Linked DNA regions of Homo sapiens: regions 1 and 2 are each linked to region 3. Evidence: fine-mapped QTL for protein levels in blood plasma. A gene starts in region 3. Each other region holds a variant in brackets. All regions are shown on one strand. Distances are from middle to middle.

What was found. A credible set is the group of variants that fine-mapping cannot tell apart. PIP is the posterior inclusion probability: the model's chance that the variant is causal. Protein levels are from antibody-based Olink assays in UK Biobank. Linkage for the fine-mapping came from a reference panel and not from the study's own genotypes, which makes the PIPs less certain.
Region 1: its variant is the best candidate, but not a certain one, in a credible set for the plasma level of the PRKAR2A protein (UK Biobank, PIP 0.87).
Region 2: its variant is the best candidate, but not a certain one, in a credible set for the plasma level of the PRKAR2A protein (UK Biobank, PIP 0.88). The variant lies in the coding sequence of PRKAR2A. If it changes the protein, the assay may bind it differently, which can mimic a change of level.

Annotation. Positions count from the first base shown.
Region 1 is chr3:50,400,135-50,408,556 of GRCh38, reverse strand. All of the region lies in intron 3 of CACNA2D2 (calcium voltage-gated channel auxiliary subunit alpha2delta 2), which reads left to right. Among named protein-coding and RNA genes, the nearest start is that of TMEM115, 45 kb to the right of the region's middle. RefSeq lists a silencer at 2,992-3,192 and enhancers at 7,337-7,837, 7,838-8,338. The variant C/T (reference allele first, on the strand shown) is at 3,797.
Region 2 is chr3:48,764,502-48,767,499 of GRCh38, reverse strand. PRKAR2A (protein kinase cAMP-dependent type II regulatory subunit alpha) reads left to right here. Exons shown (of 11, transcript NM_004157.4): 7 at 2,151-2,252; 8 at 2,422-2,496. Among named protein-coding and RNA genes, the nearest start is that of IP6K2, 49 kb to the right of the region's middle. The variant A/G (reference allele first, on the strand shown) is at 2,468.
Region 3 is chr3:48,844,278-48,852,640 of GRCh38, reverse strand. PRKAR2A (protein kinase cAMP-dependent type II regulatory subunit alpha) reads left to right here and starts at 4,767. Exons shown (of 11, transcript NM_004157.4): 1 at 4,767-5,306. The coding sequence starts at 5,045. PRKAR2A-AS1 (PRKAR2A antisense RNA 1) reads right to left here and starts at 4,704. Exons shown (of 3, transcript NR_109997.1): 1 at 4,616-4,704; 2 at 4,233-4,536; 3 at 659-3,654. RefSeq lists a silencer at 4,625-4,954.

The DNA.
Region 1 (8,422 bases), 1.6 Mb before region 3:
AGGATGCAGCCAGTATTCAGAGCAGCTCTTACCCTGGGCATTTCCACCTGGCAGCCAGGCTGTGCCCTCCCTGCCCACCACCTCCAGCCCTTTGTCTGCCTGTCACCTCTGCCTGGGCCCTCAGCATCATCCCCGGGCCAACCAGTGCTTGGCTTTGTGTCCCAAAGCTGGTGGGCAGCGACAAGGTGGAGCCTCAGGCGTCCACATCCAGCAGAGTGACAGCCTAGCTGGAAGAGTCTGGCTCCTGCTCCCACTCTTCTGGATGACCTGTGCAGGGAGCCCTGGCTTTGTCTTGGCCTAGGTTCATATCCCGCCTTGCTGCCCAGGGACACAGGGAGTTGTCAGAGCCCATCCCTGGCATGGACAAAGCTGGATTCAGTTTGAGCTCTGCCATTTGATCATTGTGTGGTCTTGGGTGGGTGAGTCACCCTCTCTGAGCCTTGGTGACCTCGTCGGGGGAATGGGAATAATGATTGGGCTTCTTGGGGCTTTTTGGAAGCATGTGTGTGAAGCAAGGTGCAGATAATGAAATGAGGTCCTGTGGAAGAGGCTGGGCCATGTTCATAAGCACAAACACCTACCGCACCAATCCCTGAGTCCAGGGAGGCCCAGGAGAATCGAAGGCCTAAATCAGCTCCCCTGGCCTCCACTGCCCTCCTTCCTACCCCCACATCTTTGCCCTCTGGGCATTACTTCCCTTATCCCCTTCATCTGACCTTGCCCTTCAAGTTTTGCCTGGTGCTCCCTTTCCCAAAGCCCACCTGGCTTAGCCTAACCATACTCCTCTCCCATAGGGTTTATGTGCCCTTTGAGACAGCCTTGGATGCTCACTGTTCTCCTCTCATGTCTGCCTTCATCCTCACAGTCTTATGAGGCTGGGACTAGTAGAAGCCCCGTGTTAGGGAGGAGGTTATCAGGATTCAGAGAATGGTATCAGTTCTGTGCATTACACATGCAGCTCCTGGCTCTGCCCCATGGGGTACTGTGGCTGCTGGTCACTGTCTGCCCAGTCCCAGGTCCTACTAGAACCAGGAGAGTAAGCTAAGCCCCAGTCTCTTCAGGGGCCCTGGTAGAGTGGACAAGCACCCATTCCACCCCCTGGCCTTGAGGGCTTTCCTCCTGAAGCCCTCATGATCGCCAGGAACAGGGTCAGAGCAGGGGTCAGAGCCCACGAGTGGCAGGCCTAGGAAGTCTAATTTGGCCAGCACCATGGTTCCATCTGAGCATGTGATGCAAAAGCCACAAACAGGCCTTAAACAGGAGAGAGATCTGGCCCTGACCTGTGATGCCTCAGTACAGGTCCAGGCTCTGTCCCTAATGGTACAGTGGCCTGACAGTCCTTCCAGGCCTCAGCTCCCCCTTTGTATAGGGGGGCCAGTGGGCCCCTGACCTCGTTGTCTTCACCTTGAAGGGATGATCATCAAGGCAGACCCTGCCTGTGGTGTGTTTAGTAAGAGTGCCCAGGGCCAGTTCTCCATGTCCAAGGTCACAGATACCTAGATCAAGCACCTAGGTCAAGGTACCTAGATACAAGCACCAATATCCAGGTTGATTATGAGCTCTCTGGTCACTGAGTCATTTGTTTACAGGTTCCCCAACCCTCTGATGATGCTGGAGGGTGATGGACAGAGAAAGGTGAAGAATGAGTTGTCTCTGTCTCTTCATCAGACTCTTCTCAGGGATACAGAGGTGATGGTGCAGGTAGCAGTGAGCACAGTGGTAGTGGTGATTACCAGGAGACATGAGCACTAGCAGAGGTGACCACAGTGGGGTGATGGTCGTAGTGGTGACAGTGATGGTAAAGGTGGTGATGGAAGTGATGTTGGCAGTAGAGTTGATGGTGGTAGATGAAGATGGTGATGATGGAAGTGATGACTATGGTGATGGGGATGAAGGTAGTGATGGTGGAGCTGATGGTGATGGGAGTAACACTGATGATGATGGAGTAATATTGGCAATGGTGATGGGGAGGATGTTGGCAGTGAACATGGGGACATTGGTGCTGGTTAAGTGGGGGGAACAACAGTGATGATGGGGATGATGGTGAATGGAGTAGCATTCTGGTGGTGCAGGGATAATATTGATGGTGGGTGATGGGGGTGATAGGGCTGATGGGGGGCTCCCTGTGGAGTGTACCTCTGAGGGGCAGTCCTCCAGGCAGCCCTGTCCCACTCGTGGGCTTTGCCCTTGCTGGAGGCAGGACACAGTGGGGCTTGCTTGGTGCTTTTTTTCTTTTAACCTCCAGTGAGCACAGCCTTCTGGGTAATGAGATGCAAATTGACAGAAAAGACAATGAGCCAGCCTGCGGCCAGTGGGGCAGCTTTTAGAGTCAGGCTGATTGCCTCTGTGCCAATTTGCATGGCATTAGCTGTGCATGTCTTCTCCAATGGGTTCGTGTATTTCATTAGCGGTCACCTGGATGGCTGCATCTGACAAAGGGCAATGACCTGTGATCCCAGACCAGGGGGCAGGGGCAGAGCCACTCTGACTCTGACCTGAATAGGGCTCCAGGATGTGGCTACAAGAAGTCTGAATCTGTGGGGAAGGGCAATGGATAGGGGGTAGAGATTGGAGAGTTCTCATGATCGCCAGGAACAGGGTCAGAGCAGGGGTCAGAGTGCATGAGTGGCAGGCCTAGGAAGTCTGGTTTGGCTAGCACCATGGTTCCATCTGAGCATGTGATGCAAAAGCTACAAACAGGCCTTAAACAGGAGAGAGATCTGGCCCTGGCCTGGGATGCCTCAGTACAGGTCCAAGCTCTGTCCCTAATGGTACAGTGGCCTGACAGTCCCTCCAGGCCTCAGTTCCCCCTTTGTATGGGGGGGCCAGTGGGCCCCTGACCTTGTTGTCTTCACCTTGAAGGGATGATTGTCAAGGCAGGCCCTGCCTGTGGTGTGTTTAGTAAGAGTGCCCAGGGCCAGTTCTCCAGGTCCAAGGTCACATATTTCAGCCCACTGAGCAGACCTACCGTTTCTGTCACTGTCACCATTACTCAAGGTTATGCCTGGGATCATTCCTTGAGTGCCACCGAGGAATGAGGGGGCCTGGGCAAGATAACACCCAGGTGGTTGCCCAAACCCAGCCCTGACGCTCCTCCCTACCTCTGTCCATGGTGCTGAAAGTCTTCGCCCAAGCTGCTTGCTCTGGTGTTCCTGCTGCCTAGGTGGGCTGGGCTCGCCCCCACCCCCCTCCCCACCACGGCCCTTGCTCTCTGACCCTGCAACCTGTTTGACCCAGTGCAACCCACGACTCCATTCCACGTCCCTTCCCCAAAACAGGCAACAATGGGGCTAGAGGTTCTTCTCCACTACCCTCCACCCCCAGCCCAACCAGTGCCCCATCGGGCACATTTCAGGGCCCTTTTGTCCCCACCTCCCTCTTCACTGTCCCACTCCTTCTCCTGAGGTTGGGCCTAATCAAAGCTAATCAGAAAATTATGAGCTGTCTGATTACTGATTAGATTCCTAATGTTAATAGAGCTGAGAAGGGCCCGCTTAGGCTGTGTTTTAGGAAAAAGTATAAAAATAACATCATGGGAAGGGAGCCTGGAGGTTGGGCTGGGACTCAGGCTCTCTTGTTCTAGCTGGGGTGGGGTCTCACTCTCAGCTTTCAGGTGGGAATACATTCCCATGCAGGGGAGCTTCCTAGCACCCTAAATTCTTCCAGTGACGGTGCCATTCCAGGCAGCTCTTCCTGTAGAGGCCTCTAGCAAGTTCTCTGCTCAGGGCAGTGGGACTGAATTGCAGTGGGAAGAAGTTAGGTGGACTATAAAGAAGAACTTACTGCTGGCACCCCA[C/T]GTAAGAGCAGGGCTATGTCTGTAATGCTCACTGACCTCCTCAGGCCAGTTTACTGCACACAGTAGGTGCTCAGTAAACATGTGTTGACAGGAAGGAAGGAGAGTCATATCAACCTCTTCCCATGGGAACTGTCACCCTCCCATGTCCTGCCCCTGAGCCATGGTGGGCATAGAGGCATCTGAGAAGGCTTCTTGGAGGAGGATGTTGGGGCATGTCAGGAGAATGCACTGATCTGGCACCAGGGCAGGGGTGCTGAGCTCCCTGGGGACTCAGCTCCTGGCTGACCTGGCCAGATGAGGCACTCCTGTCCACCACCCTCTGCCTCTCATTCCAGCAGAGCCCCGGGGACTTCTGCTAATAACCATGTTATTACTGACCTGGCAGCAGCTGGGTGGGGCTAATGGGTAACATTTTCACAAGGTCCAGAGTGGAGTTGTGGTCCTGGAGAGCAGACTTCAGCAGTTCAGACCCCAGAGGCTGCCCCTCGCATGCCTCTTCGTGGAGAACACAGTGAGGCCTGTACTTAGATTCAGCCTCACCCCACTCACACCTTCACCCCCCACACCATCTTGGATCCCTATTCTCTGTCATCAGTACCATTTCTGACCGGGTTTCTGCCATCTCTATCCCAATGAAACCCAGGGCCTCCAAACCAGCAGATCCCCAAGGGCAACTCCTGATCCACCCCCTGACCCCTTGACTGTGATGGGAGCCTGAGGTCACTTAGCATTTCCTCACTGAGCTGGCTTGCCCAGCACTGGGGCCACACAGATCCATGAATCAAGTCCCTGCCTTCAAGGGACCACATCTGGGAGGGAATCAGGCACATGCAGTGATGGAAACCCCAGGGCAATTGTGGGAACCCAGCCCTACAGGGCACCAGGATTCCTGGAGGAGGCAGAAGAGCAGTGGCTCCTACAGGATGAGGAGGAGCTAGCCAGGGGAGGGGATGAGAAAGGACACTCCAGGCTTGGGATACAGCACAAACAAGGCTTTGGAACCGCAGCATGGCAGGAAGGCAAACTTCAATGTCAGTGTGGTAGAAGAGAGATGAGGTTGGCAGAGCCTGGTAAAGGATAATGTTAGGAAGGGAGGAGTGGTCCAGGCATCCGGGAAACACAGACAGGTCACAGAACTTGATGGGGAAACCTGAAGGTGTGGGGGCTGGGGCAGATGAGTTCATGATAACCAGCTTTGGTTGGGAGTCTGAAGGTGGGTTGCAGGGCTTGGGAGAGGTCTGGTCAGGAAGGCAAGGAAGGGGTCATGGGAGTAGGGCTGGAAGCCAAGCAGGGCTGCAGGGGGGTAATGAACAAGATCTCCAGCGAAGTTGGTGCTGAGGAGAAGGGCAGCCCGTTGGCATAAACTGAAGAAGAAAACAGGTCAGGCCAAGTTTAGAAGGCCCTAGAGAGAAGCTGAGTTTGGGGGAGGGGGAACCAGTCAGGAGGCCCCTGGAGTGAGGTAAGGGAAGGAGCAACCCAGAACCTGGAGTTGTGTCTCCAGTTTCCAAAGTGAGTCCCCATCCCGTTCGCTGTCTATGCCCTGCTCTCCATCCACATCCTCACAGCCCTGGGAGGGGCCCTGGCAGTGTTTTGGTCCCTCCCTGTTATAGATGAGAGATCAAGGTACAGAGAGGTGAGGGCAGTGCTCCCCAAATTATGTGCTGGGTCAATTGCCAAGCCCTAGGAACTTGGGTACCTTGGCCTCTGTGGCTGGACAAGGGAGGAGGGCACTGTCACACTCAACGACCACCCCCGTGCCCACACATATCTCTAGAATGGGGACTGATGAGGGGACAGGAGGCAGCACCATGCCCCACAGAGCACTCAGATAAGGATGTGTCCCTGCTCCCCTAGCCAGAGTGGCCGACGGCCCCTGGATGGGTACCCTCACCCAATGCTATCTGCATGGTTTTTTCTAAGGATGAGAGAAATGTTGATGAATTATGGATCATAATTTAGGGGGAGGGAAACTGACACAAAACTGGCAGAATTCTGATAAATTCCACCTGGGTTGCCAGGGACTGACTGACCTGCAGAAATGGGTAAGTTTCATGCTGGGGTGCCAGCTAGGTTGGTGGATTCCCACCCGTTTGAGCCCCTGTGGGATGGGGCTGAGCAGGGCAATATCTTGGAAAGAGCCCCAGCAGCCTGGAGTAGCCTTCAGCTCTGGGTTCCTTGAGGGTGAGGTGCCTTCATATGGCTGGGCTCTGAAGCCACAGTTCAAATGTGGACCTGAAGCAGTTTGTTGCATGTATTGGTTTATTTCTCATTGGGGCATCTCTTGCAAGTGCTCAACAGGAGACCTGGGAGCTCAGCAGGGGACTGGGTAAGGCAGAGACCTGCAGCCCTGAGACCAGACCTTTCCTGCAGCACGTGGTTGTCCAGGTCCACCCACACGTCCTCCTGAGTCAGCCTGCTGCTGCAGAGTAAAAATCTCTAGAGGGTGGGTTTCACTCCCATTTCCAGAAAACTGGTCTGTAAATTCAAGCTGGTTTCTGCAAATGCTCAGCCCAGCCACAGAGGCCCCTTGCCTCACCCTCTCCCTGTTCACACTGGACACATTTGGCTCCTGTCCCAGGACACACCCGACCTCTTTCTGTATTGATTGTGGTTCCAGTTTAAAGCAAAAAAGCAATGAAAGCCAGTGGAATACTTGTTACCACCTGTGAGTGCCACTTCCTTTACTTCCTTGGGAAGGGATCCCAGAGCTCATGGCCTTCCTCCTCTTGATGTTAAAACGTCCACTTTGGCCGGATGCAGTGGCTCACAACTGTAATCCCAGCACTTTGGGAGGCCAAGGCAGGCGGATGACTTGAGGTCAGGAGTTCAAGACCAGCCTGGGCAACATGGTGAAACCCTGTTGCCACATGGTGAAACTAAAAATACAAAAATTATCCAAGCGTGGTGGTGGGCGCCTGTAGCTACTCGGGAGGCTGAGGCAGGAGAATCGCCTGAACCCAGGAGGCAGAGGTTGCATTGAGCTCAGATCGCACCACTGCACTCCAGCCTGGGCAACAGAGCAAGACTCCATCTCAAAAAAAACAAAACTGAAAATAAAAATAAAACGTTCACTTTTTGGTAACATAACAGTAATAAGAGAGAGTGGGAGTTTTTTTAAGTGTCCTCTCTTGGCAAAATACAACATAGCAAGGATCCTTGGGAGCCCAGGATGTTCTGGGAAATTCTGTCTGACCTGAAATTCCAGCATCTGGGATACCAGGCTCCCCACCCTGGCTGGTCACAGTCATTCCCTCTGCTTCTCCATCACAGGCCACCCCTCATTTCTTCATATTTTTCCTAGGAAATTGAAGCACAGCCTGCCCCTTCCAGGCTGGACTGAGGGGGTGCAGGCACTGATTACCAAGCCTGTGACACCCACAGGGAGGTGTCAAGCCTGGACTTGGGTGGAGTGGCGGCTGCCCTGCTGCAGAGGGAGACCACAACTCGAATGAGTTTTTCCCTGTTACATGGATTCTGACCTTTTTTAAATTAAAAAAAAAATCCATTTTACTAATTTTTTTTATCAATTTGCAGAAGACGCATGAGTCCTGTGAGGGAAAAGGTCAGGGAGCCTGTTGCTGCCAACAGCGGTGATGGCCTCCCATGCCAGCCTTCCCCTGAGGCACCCTCTGTGCCAGAAATGTTTATTTTCCTTGCAGGCTTCTGTTTGCTGGAATTGTGGTCTGGGGTTTCAGTGTTTTTTGTTACTCTGGTGGTCATTTTATCTTTAAGGTGTAAACATGGTTAATACAAAAAGAGTAGGTTTGAACCTTACGATGTGCCATGGGCCAGGCGCGGTGGCTCACGCCTGTAATCCCAGCACTTTGGGAGGCCGAGGCAGGAGGATCACTTGAGGTCAAGAGTTCAAGACCAGCCTGGGCAACATAGAGAGACCTTGTCTTATAATAATTAGTTAATAAAAACTATAACAAATTTGTTAAGGAAAAAATAAAGATGAGACAGGAGCCAAGTGTGTCCAGCGTAGATGCGCCAAGGGGCGAAGGAAGGGGCCTTGAGGGACGGGTAAGGCTGGGTGCCCGTCCTGTCCCAGGAGGCATGCATGTCAACAGTGCACCCGACAGGAAAGCACAGCCACTGGCGTGTCTCCATCACCCTCAGCACGTAAGTCACGGACCCTGCTCGGCCCTCACTGCCCATCCTGCTGCATTTCTCTTCATCCCTCAGAACCCAGCAAAATGTGGGGTCGGGGCAAGACATGCCCTCAGAAGGTTGTAGTGAGTGAGACTGTGTCCATAAAGCTCTGAGCACATCATGTGAGGGCCACAAAGTCGCTGAGGTGGCCGTCATGCATGTAGCAGGCACTGTCTGTCCACACAAAGCCTCCCTCAGACCACGAGTGGTGCCAGGACAGGGCTGAGGGGATTCTTTTGGTCCCTGACTGTGGACGCACCTGCTTGGAGCAGGAGGTGGATGGACAGACAAATGTCTGCTCAAGGCCGAAGCAGCAGCAGCAGAGGCCCACAGGGCCAGGGCCCCCTAACCCCACCTGCACTTCTGCCCCTACTGTCAGCCCTGGGGCTCCAGCTCCCCCCTGGCAGAGCTGCATCTTGCTTCATTATTATGCAGATATTTTAATTATGCAGATATGTTTTTAGACAGTTTTAA
Region 2 (2,998 bases), 82 kb after region 3:
TGTTTTGTTTTTGTTTTTTTCGAGGCAGGGTCTCGCTCTGTTACCCAGGCTGGAGTGCAGTGGCATGATCTCGGCTCACTGCAACCTCTGCCTCCCAGGTTCAAGTGATTCTCCTGTCTCAGCGTCCCAAGAAGCTGGGATTACAGGCGCCCACCACCATGCCTGGCTAATTTTTGTATTTTTAGTAGAGATGTGGTTTCACCATATTGGCCAGGCTGGTCTTGAACTCCTGACCTCAAGCGATCCGTCTGCCTCGGCCTCCCAAAGTTCTGGGATTACAGGCGTGAGCCACTGCGCCCAGCCCATTATTATACTTTCTGACAAAATGTATATATGTATAGTCCTGACAGCCTGAGGTGGAAGAAAGGTAGTTAACTTAGATACAAATAACTGCTTGCCCATTTAGGAATCTAAGACTAAGCAATTAACATTCTCACATGTATCTCCCTGCACATGTGTACACATATCTGAGAAGTGCCTGGTTTGGTTAACTGTCTTCTGATCAGAATCCATTACTTACTAAGCCAGGCACAGTGTTGTGTACCTGTAGTCCCAGCTACTTGGGAGGCTGAGGTGGGGAGATCACTTGACCCCAGGAGTTCAAAGCCAGCCTGGACAACATTGGGGGACCCTATCTCAAAATAAAACAGAAGGAATCCATGACTTGCTAGAGTCAAGGTATCTTTCATATGCCTGCCTTCCATCTTGCGTATTCCTCCCGTGTCTCTCCATTAACTTAAATCCTACCTCTCTTTCAGGTCCTAGACATTTTTGCTGCAAAATAATCTTTGATCACTCCTGCCTACTGTGATCTCCCCTTCTTACCTTGAAATTTATGTGGCACTTGTCTTCTGTAGTTTCATCAAGCACATTTCATATGCTCATATGCTGTCTTGAACTGTAGACTTTTTATTTTTATTTTATTTTTTTTTGAGACACAGTTTCAACTTATGTCACCCAGGCTGGAGTGCAGTGGCGCAATCTCAGCTCACTGCAACCTTAGCCTCCTGAGCTCAAGTGATTCTCCAGCCTCAGCCTCCCAACTAGCTGGGACTAGACAAACGCCACCATGCCCAGCTAATTTTTGTATTTTCTGTAGAGATGGGGTTTCACCATGTTGCACAGCCTGGTCTTGAACTCCTGAGCTCAAGTGATCTGTCTGACTCAGCCTCCCAGAATGCTGGGATTACAGGTGTGAGCCACTGCACCTGTCCTTGAAATGTAGACTTTTTATTCCTATGTATTTTGTTGTTGTTGTTGTTGTTGTTGATATTGTTGTTTTTGGGACATAGTGTCACTCTGCTGCCCAGGCTGGAATGCAGTGGTACAATCACAACTCACTGCAGCTTTGACCTCTCAGGCTCTGGTGAGCCTTTCACCTCAGCCACCCAAGTACAGACAAGTGCCACCATGCCCAGCTAACTTTTTTTGTGTATTTTTTCGTAGAGAGCGTGTTTCACCATGTTGCCTAGGCTGGTCTCATACTCCTGGGCTCAAGCAATTTGCCCACCTTAGCCTCCCAAAATGCTAGGAGTACAGGCAGTGAGCCACTGCATTCAGCCAACCTTCATATTTTGATATTTTATATTATCTCCCCATTAAGATTGTAAACTTTTTTAGGGTAAGAACAATCTAATTGTTCTTTTTTTAGGCAAGAACAATCTAATTGTTTTGGATTTTTTAAGTTTTTTTAAATCCTGGATTCTAAGGATTAAATGATTGTTTTATTCTCTCTTTTGGTGAGGTGTCTCTTTTTTTTTTTTTTTTTTTTTTTTGAAATGAGGGTCTCACTCTGTCACCCAGGCTGGAGTGCAGTGACATGATCTCGGCTCACTAGAGGTGTCTTTTTTGATATTGAACAGTGACAGTGAGCTCATAAATGTTTAGGTGTTTTCTGTTTTGGGTTCTATTTATGACCCATAGGTGGCACCTATTGAGTGCTAGATAGCAAGCAACAGCATGTGGGCATCTGGCTGGCTCAGGCTATAGGTCCTTTACTTCCAGTGATGACTCAAGATTGAAGTATCATTAAACACTTAATTAACACAGTAACTTACATATTCCTCTAATATTTGCTTTGGCCAGTTAATTAAACCATAGATGTTCCTGTATATAGGCATTTACTAGAATTTTCATATTCTTTCTTGTAGGACCGGGTGACTTTTAGAAGAATCATAGTGAAAAATAATGCAAAGAAGAGGAAGATGTTTGAATCATTTATTGAGTCTGTGCCCCTCCTTAAATCACTAGAGGTAAAGTGGCTTGAATAAGAATCTGTTCATGGGGATCAGGAAAAGCTTTTAAAACTATTCTGTTGTTAGGTTTTCAAATCATACTATTCTAATCCTATTTCTGTGCTGCATAGCTATTGTGACTTTCAATTAAGGTCTTTTCCTTTTATTTGTGAATTTGTTGTTTCAGGTGTCAGAACGAATGAAGATTGTGGATGTAATAGGAGAGAAGATCT[A/G]TAAGGATGGAGAACGCATAATCACTCAGGTGAGTGAGGGCTTTACGCAGCTCCTTTCCTGGAAGTCACCCCTGAAGAACTAGTACATCATTTATCTCAAAAACTTCTTGCCGGACGCAGTGGCTCACGCCTGTAATCCCAACACTTCGGGAGGCTGAGGCAGGTGGATCACTTGAGGCCAGGAGTTCAAGACCAGCCTGGCCAACATGGTAAAACTCCATCTCTACTAAAAATACAAAAATTAGCTGGGTGTGGTGGCCCATGCCTGTAATCCCAGCTACTTGGGAGGCTGAGGCGGGAGAATTGCTGGAACCCAGGAGGCAAAGGTTTCAGTGAGTCGAGATTGCGCCACTGCCTCCAGCCTGGGCAACAGAGCAAGACTCCATTTCAAAAAAAAACCAAAAAACCTTCTATGTTCTCCCACTGTTGGGAGCTCTTATTACCAGGTAATAGATCATACTTCAGAGGACTATTATGTAGTCCTCTGAAGCTTATTGACGTCCGTCTTACTGACACGTGCAGATCTCTTGC
Region 3 (8,363 bases):
ATTTTCTAGCCAGCTTCCCTGTGCTTTCTAGGTTCTGTCCTTGCCCTGAGGTGTCTCAGATGCAGACCCTGGGTCCACTGCAGAGACTGACATTTTCTCAGGACATAGTGTCTCAGGCGTGGGGATGGCTCACAGGTACACAAACGTGGCCTGGGAGCTAACTGCTCCCTGGAGCATGGGCACTTGTTAAAACAGATTAGATTTCCTGGGCAAAAGGCAATGGCCTCGCTGGAGGAGCCACAGTAGAGGCTGAAAGACAGCTTGGGTAAGGGCCGAGAAAACATAGCCCACTTCCTCAATCTCTCTTGCCAACTAAAGGCTCATGAACACTTCTAAGGCAACATAGAAGCTGTTGCTTGTAGGAACTAAGTGAGCTGGGAGTACTAAATCCAGGAGGGCCTGGCATGTAGAGGTGGTCAGGTGACCAGCGGATCCCAGGAAATGGGTGGGGGACTGGAATGGCTTAGAAAAGTGGTCCCTTGATCAAGTAAGAGGGAGGTTTTCCTGCTGGACCTGAGTCCTGCAAGTATGCAGAGGGCATAAGGTATTTAAGCTGGAGGATCTGAGCCAAGAGCAGGCCTTCAGAGGAGTTCGGGGAAGTTTAGGCCCCTCTCTTCATCTTGGAGAGACAGACAGAAACGTTTGAATAACAAACCTATCAAGAGCACACAAAATTCATTGTTTCATTGGAAACAGCAATGGTACCCTACCCATTTTCGTTTTCACCAAGACCCGTTGCTTTTGGGCTAAACAACATGTGTCCCACCTGTGCTACTCTGCATCCATAGTTGCAAACATCTCTGCAAATTGGCCCCATTGTGTCCATATCTGTGCCTCTGGTTGGTGATATGGCAGTTTGTGCAAGACGTTGACTGCCTGCTGAGTTGTGAGTAGGATTAGATTTGAGTGTAGCACCCTCAGGGTTCTGGGGCCTCCTCCTGTGTACTTCTCTTCCTTCTAAGAGTCTCTGCTGTTGGCCTTTTCCACCATCAGTTGCTCTTGGCAGCTGTATCTCAGTTACCGGCTGCCTCTGGGTTTAGTTGCCATGGTAACCTCCAGTGGTGCAGCTGGACAGGCTTGAATGCAGGCAGGATAAATGCAGGATAAGGGTAGAAGATGCGGGGTTCAGGCTCCTGGTGTTCTGTCCTGTTACAGGGCCCTCTTCTTTAGCCAGTTCAACTAGATATTCATGAAGACCCTGGGGGCTCTACTTGTTACTGAAGGGTTGACCAGAAGTGGGAGAGATGCACCCCTGCTCTGGGGACCAAGTGCTGGGGGAGAGTGCCAGGTTAAACCTGGAGGCTGGCTGCCCATCCTTGCTCTAAGACTAGTCTATGGAGACCCATGAGGAGCAGCTGTAGGACTCCTGCTTTCTGTGGCTATATGGCAGACACACCTGTGTATGGTAGCTGCACCTGACAGCAATAACTTAAGCATACTCTGAGAATGACCCTGTATGGCAGATGCACCTGAATGTGTTAGGAGTTCCAAGTGAGGACAAGCCAGAGATTCATTACTTACCCATGAGGAATATCTGAGCCCCCATTCTGTCCTGTGGATGTACAGGGGATTTAGCCCCTTTGTTTTGGGTTAAATCAAAGTTGTTAGGGGGAGGGTGTTAAGTGAAAATGCTATATATACTGCATACTTTCTGCAGGTGGGGCAGTTCTCCTATCTAGCCCACCTCCACTGGACTGCTCTGTATGCAAATTCCCCTCAATCAAACCTAAGTCTTGTTTGCTGGCTCTGGATCTCTTTTGGCCTCTCAAACCTGGTGCCATCCCTACTGAAGTTAATGGGGGTCTGGTGGCCAGGTGCGATGGCTCACACCTATAATTCCAGCACTTTGGAAGGCTGAGGCGGGTGGATCGCCTGAGGTCAGGAGTTCGTGACCAGTCTGGCCCTGTCTGTACTAAAAATACAAAAATTAGCCAGGCGTGGTGGTGTGCGCCTGTAGTCCCAGCTACTCGGGAGGCTGAGGCAGGAGAATGGCTTGAACCCAGGAGGTGGAGGTTGCAGTGAGCAGAGATTGCGCCACTGCACTCCAGCCTGAGCGACAGAGCAAGACTCCATCTCAAAAAAGAAAACAAAACAAAATATGGGTCTTTCTTGGCCGGGCGTGGTGACTCATGCTGGTAATCCCAGCATTTTGGGAAGCTGAGGCAGGCGGATCACCTGAGGTCAGGAGTTCAAGACCAGCCTGGCCAATATGGTGAAACCCCATCTGCACTAAAAATACAAAAAATAAGCCGGGCGTGGTGGTGCGCACCTATAATCCCAGCTACTTGGGAGGCTGAGACACGAGAATCGCTTGAACCTGGGAGGTGGAGGTTGCAGTGAGCCGAGATCGCGTCACTGCACTCCAGCCTGGGCAACAGAGTAAGACTGTGTCTCAAAAAAACAAACAGGCCAGGCGTGGTGGCTCACGCCTGTAATCCCAGCACTTTGGGAGGCCAAGGCAGGCGGATCATGAGGTCAGGAAATCCAGACCATCCTGGCTAACATGGTGAAACCCCGTCTCTACTAAAAAATACAAAAAATTAGCTGGGCATGGTGGCGCACGCCTGTAGTCCCAGCTACTCTGGAGGCTGAGGCAGGAGAATGGCATGAACCCGGGAGGTGGAGCTTGCAATGGGCCGAGATCATGCCACTGCACTCCAGCCTGGGCAACAGAGCAAGACTCCATCTCAAAAACAAACCCAAACAAACAAAATGGCCAGGTGCAGTGCCTCACGCCTGTAATCCCAGAACTTTGGGAGGCTAAGGCGGGCAGATCCCTAGGTCAGGAGTTCGAGACCATCCTGGCCAACATGGCAAAACCCCGTCTCTACTGAAAATACAAAAATTAACTGGGCATGGTGGCAGGTGCCTATAATCCCAGCTACACAGGAGGCTGATGCAGGAGAATTGCTTGAACCTGGGAGGTGGAGGTTGCAGTGAGCTGAGATCGTGCCATTGCACTCCACCTTGGGCGACAAAAGGAAGACTCCATCTAAAAGAAAAAAAAAAAGCCAGGTGCGGTGGCTCACGCCTGTAATCCCAGCACTTTGGGAGGCTGAGGCGGGTGGATCACGAGGTCAAGAGATTGAGACCATCCTGGCCAACATGGAGAAACCCCATCTCTACTAAAAATAGAAAAAATTTGCTGGGTGTGGTGGTGCACGCCTGTAGTACCAGCTACTTGGGAGGCTGAGACAGGAGAATCGCTTGAACCTGGGAGGCAGAGCTTGCAGTGAGCAGAGGTCATGCCATTGCACTCCAGCCTGGGCGACAGAGTGAGACTCCTCTCAAAAAAAAATAGGGGCCTGGCAGAACGGTCGCCCTCATTCCTTCCAGATGCCTTTTGAATGCTCTGCTGGATGGGTGGTTGGCTGAGCCGTGGGGCATCTGAGAACAAGTCAGTAGACCTTCTCCAAGAGTATGCAATAAGGACTGAGCAGGAAAAAAGTTGGAGACTGCCTGTCCCCTCACAAAGTTGATGGTCTAACATTCTTCTCAGGGTCAAGAAACTTGTCCAGGGAGACACTGCTGTTTATAATCACAGGCCTGCTTAGCCTAGAACCTGGGCTGGCCTCTTCATCAGTGGGGATGAGGGCTCCTTGCTCCCAGCTGCTCAGCTCCCAGCAGCATTGAGCTCCTGGGTGTGTGCCAAGCCTGTATGGGAGGTGATAGGGAGGATTTTAATTAATACTGAGTAATTACCAGGCGGTGTTTAAGCATCCCAAATGCCCTCAGGTTCCCAAACCTACAGCTACTCTCTTCCTGGCTAGGCCTGTAAGGAGAGGGGGACTCTGCTCTATGCCCAGTGGGCCTTTGGTTAGCACGTAGGCTGTAGACTGGACATCCCAGGAAGGTCTCCACCTTTTTCAATACCCTTCCAGTTTGGTAGGAGGAGGAGGGCAATTTGGGAAATAGTCTGGCCTCTACAGTTCACCTATACCATCTTCCCAGGGGCAAAGGATAACAATGCCTGTGGTCTGCTCAACTTCATCAAGCAGTGTTGACCTAGGGCCCAGTGTAGAATGTGGGGAGAGGAATGGGCAGACCTAGATCTGGGGACCCTGGTGAAAGTGCTCCAGGAGGAACAGGCACAGAGGTCTTTGCTGCTTTTGGCCTTATTTCCCTTTCTCACTGTACACATTTGGCTGAGTGAACTCTTTCAAATTTATTTTTCTGTCTGTGGCTCTCAAATTATGATCTCATTCAAACGCCTACTTCCTACAAGGCCTTACCCGTTTGACATCTCAGAGACCTGACAGACTCCTGAGTTATTCCACCATTCCACCTGGCAGCCAAGGTGGTCTTGACTCCACCAGGCCTTTGCTCTTGTTGTATGTTCAGATGGCTTTCCTCCAGATCTTCCCCTGGGCGGGTCCTGCTCAGGCCTCGGGGCTAGCTTGAATGTCACGCCGGAAAGTGAGCCCTCTCTTGCCCTTCATCACAGCAGAATCACACTGATGTGCTCGTATGCTTCTGCTTCTCGCTGTGTCTCTGGTGCTTAGTAAGTGCTGGCCAAAAAGAGGCTCTTGGCATCAGCTGAAAGAATAATTTAAAGGTCTTCAGGACCAGGCGAGAGGCACTAATCGGTCCCCTTCATGGGTAGACCGTTCATTACCTAATTCCCTGGATTCCCTCCGTGAGCTGGCATCAGGAACACTCCACTGTCTCGACCCCCCGACAGCCCGAGGGGGCGGGTCATCTAGTGGCGCAAGCGCACTGAGGGCCGGTGCTAAGCGGGGACGCGCACGCCCGCGGTGGCGTGCGTCACAACCAGGACGCCTGCCCCGCCCGTCCAGCTCGCCTGCCCGTCGGTCCCCGCGGCGGCGGCGGCTGCCCAGTGACAGCGGCGGCGGTGCCAGGTCGGCCGTGGTAGCGTAGGGTTGCGCGGCCCGGAAACGCAGAGCCGGCCAAAGAGCGGCGCGACGTGAGCCGGGGCCGTGCGCGAAGAGACCTCGCGGGCGCGGAGCGAAAGGCCGGCGTGAGTGAGCGCGGAGACAGTGGCCGCCGGCGGCCCAACCCGTCTATCCCTTCGGCCGCCGCCGGCATGAGCCACATCCAGATCCCGCCGGGGCTCACGGAGCTGCTGCAGGGCTACACGGTGGAGGTGCTGCGACAGCAGCCGCCTGACCTCGTCGAATTCGCAGTGGAGTACTTCACCCGCCTGCGCGAGGCCCGCGCCCCAGCCTCAGTCCTGCCCGCCGCCACCCCACGCCAGAGCCTGGGCCACCCCCCGCCAGAACCCGGCCCGGACCGTGTCGCCGACGCCAAAGGGGACAGCGAGTCGGAGGAGGACGAGGACTTGGAAGGTAGGCTGTGGGCGGGGCCCTGGGGAGTGGTGCAGGAGGTCTCCAGAGGTCTAGAGGGGTGGCAGGGAGCCAGGTGTCGCGCCGCAGCCAAGCCGACCGCAGGCTGGGATTGGGAGCTCTGTAGCCGCGTTTCTAGCGTTTCCCTGAGACACCGGCGTGAGCCCGCGTGCGCCACTTCCAAATTGAGCTCCGCGATCCTGCGAGCCCTAGAGCGCACCGAGTGATTTGTCAGATCCAGCCTTGAAGGAAACGTGCGCGCTGTCGGCCCTGCTAGAGGATCCCTCGCCTTTGCTTAAGACCCTTCACCAGTTTTGGCTTCGAAGACAACAGCGTTCTCATCCAGTGACTTGTGTTTAATTGATAGGACAGTAAGTTTGTTTGGAAATAATAATTTTTTTTGAAAAGTTACTGTGAAAACTTTTAAGCATAGACAAAAGAGGAAAGGTGAGATGAATCCCTATATGCCATCACCTACATTTAACAGTTGCGTTTGTCACAAAGTTTCATCCATACCTTTTTTCTTTCTTTGCCGAAGTGTATTAAAGCAAATCTCTCAGGTCATTTCACCTCTGCTTACTTGAGTTTGTATTTCTTCAAACATGGTCCCTGGGAATATTCCTATTTTTAAAAACTTGGCCAAAACGATTGAATCAAATTTGGTGAGAGTAAATAATTATCTTGCCGGCCGGGGCAGTGGGCCCCTATAGTCTATACCAGCTACTCTGGAGGCTGAGGAGGAAATATCGCTTGAATCCAAGAGTTCGAGACCAGCCTGGGCAAAATAGACACCCTACCTCATTTTTGAAAACGAAAAACCTGGCCGGGCGTGGTGGGTCACGCCTGTAGTCCCAGCACTTTGGGAGGCCGAGGCGGGTGGATCACCTGAGGTCAGGAGTTCGAGACCAGCCTGGCCAACATGGCGAAACCCCGTCTCTACTAAAAATACAAAAATTAGCCGGGCGTGGTGGCGGGCGTCTGTAGTCCCAGCTACTTGGGAGGCTGAGGCAGGGAGAATCGCTTGAACCTGGGAGGCGGAGGTTGCAGTGAGCCAAGATCATGCCACTGCACTCCAGCCTGGGCGACAGAGCGAACTCCGTCTCAAAAAAAAAAAAAAAGAAAAAGGAAAAACCCAGTAACTATATTCTTGTTTAGTGGGTGGGTTGTAGCTTTAAAGGAAAGGATCCCAGCAGAGACTGAGATCAGGAGAGCAGCTTCATTGGCTCTACTTGCTGTGTCAGGATTTATCATTTAGTAATAGTAAACCTTCTCCAAGAGTTTGCAATAAACTCCAAGAGTACGCAATAAGGACCGAGCAGGAAACAAGTTGGAGACTGTCCCTCCCCTCACAGATTTGGTGATCCAAGATCATCACACCTTTTTTTTTTTTTAAAGTCAGGATCTCGCTCTGTCACCCAGGCTGGGGTGTAGTGGCACAATCAGGGCTCACTGCAACCCCAACCTCACAAGCTCAAGGTATCCTCCCACCTGGGCCTCCCAAGTAGCTGGGACTAAGGGCATGTGCCACCATGCCTTACTAATTTTAAGTGTTTTATAGAGACGGGGTCTCCCTGTGTTGCCCAGGCTGGTCTTGAACTCCTGGCCTCAAGTAATGCTCCTGCCTTGGCCTCCCAAAGTGCTAGGATTACAGGCATGAGCTACTGCTCCTGTCCAAAATAACACTTTCTACATCTGATCTACGCAAGAGTGTTAAGAAGCTATTACAGTTTCCTTGGTTGCTTCAACATATGCTTTGTCAATTTAACAGTAGAATTGGCCTACTTTTGAACAACTAAAATTTAACAAAACAATGAAACCATTTGAGAGGCCAAGTTAGGATCTTAGTGTTATTAGATCACACACACACAAAACTAGTTCTGAGTTGTATCTGGTCTGGCCCAGTATTCAAGTCACGGCAGGGAAGGAGTTAATTAACGGTCATTGCTGTGGGAGGTCACAAGCTTCAGTGCACTGGGCAATCTCCCTAAGTGTATTCATGCTAAAGGAGTAACAAGGGCTCTTCTGGGTTTCCCTTGATTTATTGCACATTACATCATGGGTTTTTGGGAAATCAGAAATTATTTTCTAAACTCTGCCACAGGTTTGCTTTGTGGTCTTGGACAAATTCTCAAACCTGTTTGATCTCAGATTTTCTTATCTTTAAGTTGAGGACAGTGACAACAATCTTCCAGGGACAAATTTGTTTTTAAAAGCTTTATTTCAGGTTTGTTTCACTGTCATCTCTGTAAATCACAAAGCAGTAACCTGCTTTGAGACAATTTTTATTTACACAACACTTTAGGATTTTAGAAATTAGCCTCAGATGAGTAAAAGTTTACAAGTTTTTTTTCTTTTTTATTATACTTTAAGTTTTAGGGTACATGTGCACAATGTGCAGGTTAGTTACATATGTATACATGTGCCATGCTGGTGTGCTGCACCCATTAACTCGTCATTTAGCATTAGGTATATCTCCTAATGCTATCCCTCCCCCCACCCCACAACAGTCCCCAGAGTGTGATGTTCCCCTTCCTGTGTCCATGTGTTCTCATTGTTCAATTCCCATCTGTGAGTGAGAACATGCGGTGTTTGGTTTTTTGTCCTTGCGATAGTTTACTGAGAATGATGGTTTCCAATTTCATCCATGTCCCTACAAAGGACATGAACTCATCATTTTTTATGGCTGCATAGTATTCCATGGTGTATATGTGCCACATTTTCTTAATCCAGTCTATCATTGTTGGACATTTGGGTTGGTTCCAAGTCTTTGCTATTGTGAATAGTGCTGCAATAAACATACGTGTGCATGTGCCTTTATAGCAGCATGATTTATAGTCCTTTGGGTATATACCCAGTAATGGGATGGCTGGGTCAAATGGTATTTCTAGTTCTAGATCCCTGAGGAATCGCCACACTGACTTCCACAATGGTTGAACTAGTTTACAGTCCCACCAACAGTGTAAAAGTGTTCCTATTTCTCCACATCCTCTCCAGCACCTGTTGTTTCCAGACTTTTTAATGATTGCCATTCTAACTGGTGTGAGATGGTATCTCATTGTG